2 separate regions of the Homo sapiens genome follow, and region 1 is linked to region 2. Evidence: fine-mapped expression QTL. A gene starts in region 2. The other region holds a variant in brackets. All regions are shown on one strand. Distances are from middle to middle.

Region 1 (2,907 bases), 120 kb after region 2:
TGTCCAAGGTCCCAACATTATTAAGAAGCAGAGCCAAGATTTTAATCTATTGTCTGCTATTTATTGGTTATTTTGCAATTGTGCATTCCCCTTCTGAGAGTCCCCCTAAGCATGTTAGAATAATTGATTGCCATTTTCAAAGTTGTGTTGAAATTGTCTATAGCAAATAGATTGATGCATAAAACAATCTTTTTTTATGGTTATGGAGAAAAATAAACTGATTTGAGATACCTTGTGTATTCAGTAATTTCCATTGAATATTAAATGTTTCTGCATTTACTATTTGTTAACTTATTTCACTTTTGCATATTTGTTTTAAAAGGCTAAACAGCAAAAACGCCCATTTGCCTATCATAAGCTTTTGAAAGATGCAGGAGGCATGGTGATTGATATGAAGTGGAACCCCACTGTCCCCTCCATGGTGGCAGTTTGTCTGGCTGATGGTAGTATTGCTGTCCTGCAAGTCACGGAAACAGTGAAAGTATGTGCAACTCTTCCTTCCACGGTAGCAGTAACCTCTGGTGAGTAATAAAGGCTTTCACACTGTAGCATACAATCATGGTCATCTACTTAAGAATTGATTTCTAGAAGTGAAAGTGGATAGCTTTTTGTGTTTTGGTTTTTTTTTTCATGACGAGGGAGGTTAAGGATGGAAGGTATTCTTTTTTGAGACAGTCTCACTGTGTCGCCCAGGCTGGAGTACAGTGGCATCATCTCAGCCACTGCAACCTCCACCTCCTGGGTTCAAGCAATTCTCGTGCCTCGGCCACCCAAATAGCTGGGATTATAGACATGCGCCACCATGCCCAGCTAATTTTTGTATTTTTTGTAGAGACAAGGTTTCACCATGTTGGCCAGGCTGGTCTTGAACTCCTGACCTCAAGTGATCTGCCCTCCTCCACCCCGCATATGCTAGGATTACAGGTGTGAGGCACTGTGCCCGGCTGAGAGTATTCTTTATACCCATAGTTAATGTCCTTGAAGCCAAACAGCATACATAATTTAACCTGAATGTACTTGGGATTTCTGGAGAAATATTTTGGTACAGCTGGTTTAGAAGTGTTTTTTGGGAATAATTGTTTCTGGATCTGTAACGGTGGTACTCTGAAAGTCATTTGTACCTTTGGGCGGAAAAGCATTTTAAATATTAAATGGGAGCAGGAGAATGATTTCTGGTTTTGTTTTTTTTTTTTTGTTTTTTTTTTGAGACAGAGTCTTGCTCTGTCGCCCAGGCTGGAGTGCAGTGGCGCGATCTCAGCTCACTGCAACCTCC[A/G]CCTGCTGGGTTCAAGCAATTCTCTTGCCTCAGACTCCAGAGTAGTTGGGATTACAGGTGCCTGCCACCATGCCCAGCTAATTTTTGTATATTTTAGTAGAGACGGGGTTTCACCATGTTGGCCAGGCTGGTCTTGAACTTCTGACCTCAAGTGATCCGTCCGTCTCATCCTCCCAAAGTGCTGGGATTACAGGCATGAGCCACTGTGCCCGGCCAGTGATTTCTTGGTATTTGGAAACCTTCTCTGTTCTCCTTGTCTTATGTAAAGACTACAGAGTTTTCTGTATTTTGCAGCTTTCTGGGCAGTAATCTATTGAAAAAGCATTTTTAGCTTTCAATTCAATAGCCCAGTGATAAATCAATTGGCTTATATCGTTAAAATGATTTTACTTTTTTCCACTTTGCCTGATAGAGATGATCCTACAATCTTCCATGGACTGACAGAGGAATGAGAATTGATAATTAGCTGTGTGTGATAGATCTTATTGGTTTGCTCCATTTTCTTGTTTTCATTTGGTAATACTGTCTTTGCTCAGTGTGCTGGAGCCCCAAAGGAAAGCAGCTGGCAGTGGGAAAACAGAATGGAACTGTGGTCCAGTATCTTCCTGTAAGTTCTTATCTTGAACTTCAGAATTTTTCTTAAGTTGCCCACTTTTTTGGGGGTGGTTTGGGAGTATCTTTCTTGTTTTTCCTATTAAAAAGTAATTTATACTCATTGTAACAAATCCATCAGTGAATGAAGAGTGGAACTCTTCCCTTTCCCATAGTCCTTCTTCCAGAGGCACCCACTATGTTGTGTTGAGTAGATAGCCTTCCATACTTTTCTGGATGTTATACAAATAGTCTATGGGTAGCTGCTTTTTTTTTGTTGTTGTTTTTATGTAAAATGTGATCATACGCTATGCGCTGTTCCCCACCTTTTTCAGTCCATTCCATAAAAACAGCTCAAGGGAAAAGAGTTAGTGAAAAAACTATGATGATAATGCAGAATCACTCTGGGTTAAAGCACAGTATTTGTCTTTTAACTGAGTCTGTCTTTAAAGGTCTGTTTGTCTAACTATGGGCACCAAAGAAAATGGATACTCTTGTTGCATGTGCACTCTGTCATCCTCCCTGTGAATTTCTTGAAATAATGTTCACAAATATCCTTCAATATCAATTGAGTTGCAAGGAACCCCCATATGTCTATTGAGCCTGGACACGAAGGAGGGATTCACAGGTGGTGCTAAGGCCTTTCTTGTGCCTTCCTCCTCAAGACTGTTCTCTGGCGAGGAGGGGAGCAGAGTGGTGAATGTAGGTGGTATAGGTTTAAGGTTAAGGTTATGTTTCTTATTTGTTATTACCAAAAGTTACCTGAAATTTGGTACATAATCTTTTAGGACACTAACCTGTAAAAAGATAATGCAATTTTTTAAATTTTCTTGCTTTGCTGTTTGCCTTAATTTTTTATTTATTTATTATTATTTTTTTTTGAGAGATGGTCTTGCTCTGTTGCCCAGGCTGGGGTGCAATGGTGTGATAACGTAATGGTTCACTGCAGCCTCAGCCTCCTGGGCTCAGGTGATCCTTCCACTTCAGCCTCCCGGGTAGCTGAGACTACAGGCACTTGCCACCATGCACAGCTAATTTTTGTA
Region 2 (2,846 bases):
CTGCCTGCCTCAGCCTCCCAAAGTGCTGGGATTACAGGCGTGAGCCACCGCACCCAGCCAGAAAATGCCTATTGCTGGCATTGGTTTTCGTACTCTATCCTGTAGTCAGCCATCTTACGGAGCTCTTATTAATTTTAATAGTCTTAGTAGAATCTTTTAGATTTTCTAGATGTATGTTCAGGTAAGTAGAAGATATAAATATTTATATCTTTTAAGTTTTTTGTCTTATTGTATTAGCTAGAACTTCCAAAATAACCTTAGGTACCAGTGGTGATATCATATACTAACTCTACTTAGATATAGTTCTGAAATCTCTAACTTATTCCATGGGTCTATTCTGTAGTCCTTTCCACAACCGTATTGTTTTAATCATGTGTAAATAACTGGTAGTGAATCAGCCCACTACAGTTCATCTTGCTTCCAAAAATTTTCTTTCTTTCTTTTCTTTCTTTTTTTTTTTTTTGATGGAGTTTCTCTCTTGTTGCCCAGGCTGGAGTGCAATGGCATGATCTCAGTTCACTGCAACTTCTGCCCCCCGGGTTCAAACAATTCTCCTGCCTCAGCCTCCTGAGTAGCTGGGATTACAGGCACGCACCGCCACACCCAGCTAATTTTTGTGTTTTTAGTAGAGACGGGGTTTCACTATGTTGGCCAGGCTGGTCTCGAACTCCTGACCTCAGGTGATCTGCCTTCCTCAACTTCCCAAAATGCTGGGATTATAGGCGAGAGCCACCGCGCCAGGCCAGGAAATTTATTTCTATTTTCCTTAGAGTTCGTCTGGGAATGGCTGCCTTTTTTTTTTTTTTTTTTTCGAGACAGGGTCTGACTCTGTTGGCCAGGCTGGAGTGCAATGGCATGATCACAGCCCACTGCAGCCTAACCTCCCGGGCTCAAGGGATCCTTCCACCTCAGCCTCCCAGGTAGCTGGGACTACAGGCTTGTGCCATGACGCCGGGCTAATTTTTGTATTTTTTTGTAGAGATAGGGTCTCACTATTTTGCCCAGGTTGGTCTCGAACTCCTGGCCTCAAGTTATCCTTCCGCCTCCACCTCCCAAAGTGCTAGGATTACAGGCGTGAGCCACCGCGCACGACCTGGCTGCTAAATTTTATCGAATGACTTCTCTCCCTCGATTTGCTAATGTTAATAAATGGGGAGTAAAGGGGGCATTTATGGGGGTTGGGGCAGAAGACAAGGAAGCCCTCTCTGAGGTGACATTTGTGATAAGACCAGGTACCCTTGTCACAAATGTCAGGTTAGAATCTCTTTGCTGTGGGGACAGAGCGCAGCCGGCAGCAGGAGTGCTTTTCAGGGTTAAGGGCGACAGGAGCTATGCGGAGCCATCTCACAACCCTGTCCAGGGCACACTTTATTGCTAGGAGGAGATGCGCAAACGGTAGCGATCAGTTAGAGATAGATCCTCTTGTCCCCTTTTATCTCAGGACTCCAAGGCACTGCTGAACAGTTTCTGTTTAATGAGCAGCCATTGAAGCCTCCCAATGGCGAGAATGAGCCTGCATCTTTACCGACCCCACTCCACAGACGAGGAAACTGAGGCTCAAAGAGGCCCGGGTCGCCTCTGGGGCAGACTCCCGAGCCGCGCACTGCCGGGCACGTCCAGCAGGTGGGAGTGGGCGCCCGGGGACGGCGCGGTCCCTGGTATTTTTAGTGGGGTGGGGCCGCCGCCGCCCGCCCCTCCCTCCAGCCTCCCCGCCCCGCAGGGGAAGGCGGGTCCTGGCGGCCAGCGCGCGGTCCGCGCCCACCCTAGCCGAGCGGGGCCGGCAGAGCGCGCGGCGTCGGTGCCCTTGACCATGGCGGCGGCTGCGCTTCTGCTGGGGCTGGCGCTGCTGGCACCGCGGGCGGCCGGCGCGGGCATGGGCGCGTGCTATGACGGCGCAGGGCGCCCGCAGCGCTGCCTGCCGGTGTTCGAGAACGCGGCGTTTGGGCGGCTCGCCCAGGCCTCGCACACGTGCGGCAGCCCGCCCGAGGACTTCTGTCCCCACGTGGGCGCCGCGGGCGCGGGGGCTCATTGCCAGCGCTGCGACGCCGCCGACCCCCAGCGCCACCACAACGCCTCCTACCTCACCGACTTCCACAGCCAGGACGAGAGCACCTGGTGGCAGAGCCCGTCCATGGCCTTCGGCGTGCAGTACCCCACCTCGGTCAACATCACCCTCCGCCTAGGTAAGCGCGGGCTGGGGGCACCGCCACCGCACCCCGTGTCCCCACTCCACTGGGGGTCTGAGGCTGAGGCCTGAGCTGCTGTGCGCCCAGGTTGGGCTGCAGGACCCAGATATGGTGTTGGATGGAGGGGCTCAGAAATAGGAATTAGGCTGGGTGCGGTGGCTCACTCCTGAAATCCCAGCACTTTGGGAGGCCGAGATGGGAGGGTCGCTTGAGCCCAGGAGTTCAAGATCAGCCTGGGCAACGTAGTGAGATCCCATCTTTACAAAAAATAAAGAAAAATAGGCCGGGCGCGGTGGCTGACGTCTGTAATCCCAGCACTTTGGGAGGCCGAGGCGGGCGGATCACCTGAGGTCAGGAGTTCGAGACCAGCCTGGCCAACATGGTGAAAACCCGTCTCTACTAAAAATAGAAAATTTGGCCGGGCGTGGTGGTAGGTGCCTGTAGTTCCAGCTACTCAGGAGGCTGGGGCAGGAGAATCGCTTGAACCCGGGAGGTGGAGGTTGCCGTGAGCCGAGGTCGCACCACCGTTCTCCAGCCTGGGCAACAGAGCTAACTCCGTCTCAAAAAAAAAAAAAAAAAAAAAAAAAAGCTGGGCGTGGTGGTGCACACCTATGGTCCCAGCTACTCAAGAGGCTGAGGCAGGAGGATCACTTAAGACTG

Evidence for each region. PIP is the estimated chance that this variant, and not a neighbour inherited with it, causes the effect. A credible set is the group of variants that fine-mapping cannot tell apart.
Region 1: its variant is the best candidate, but not a certain one, in a credible set for the expression of LAMC3 in whole blood (TOPMed, PIP 0.82).

The regions. Positions count from the first base shown.
Region 1 is chr9:131,128,957-131,131,863 of GRCh38, forward strand. NUP214 (nucleoporin 214) reads left to right here. Exons shown (of 36, transcript NM_005085.4): 4 at 323-521; 5 at 1,810-1,880. Among named protein-coding and RNA genes, the nearest start is that of NUP214, 4.8 kb to the left of the region's middle. RefSeq lists a silencer at 2,707-2,881. The variant A/G (reference allele first, on the strand shown) is at 1,274.
Region 2 is chr9:131,007,405-131,010,250 of GRCh38, forward strand. It overlaps LAMC3 (laminin subunit gamma 3), which reads left to right and starts at 1,770. Exons shown (of 28, transcript NM_006059.4): 1 at 1,770-2,183. The coding sequence starts at 1,811.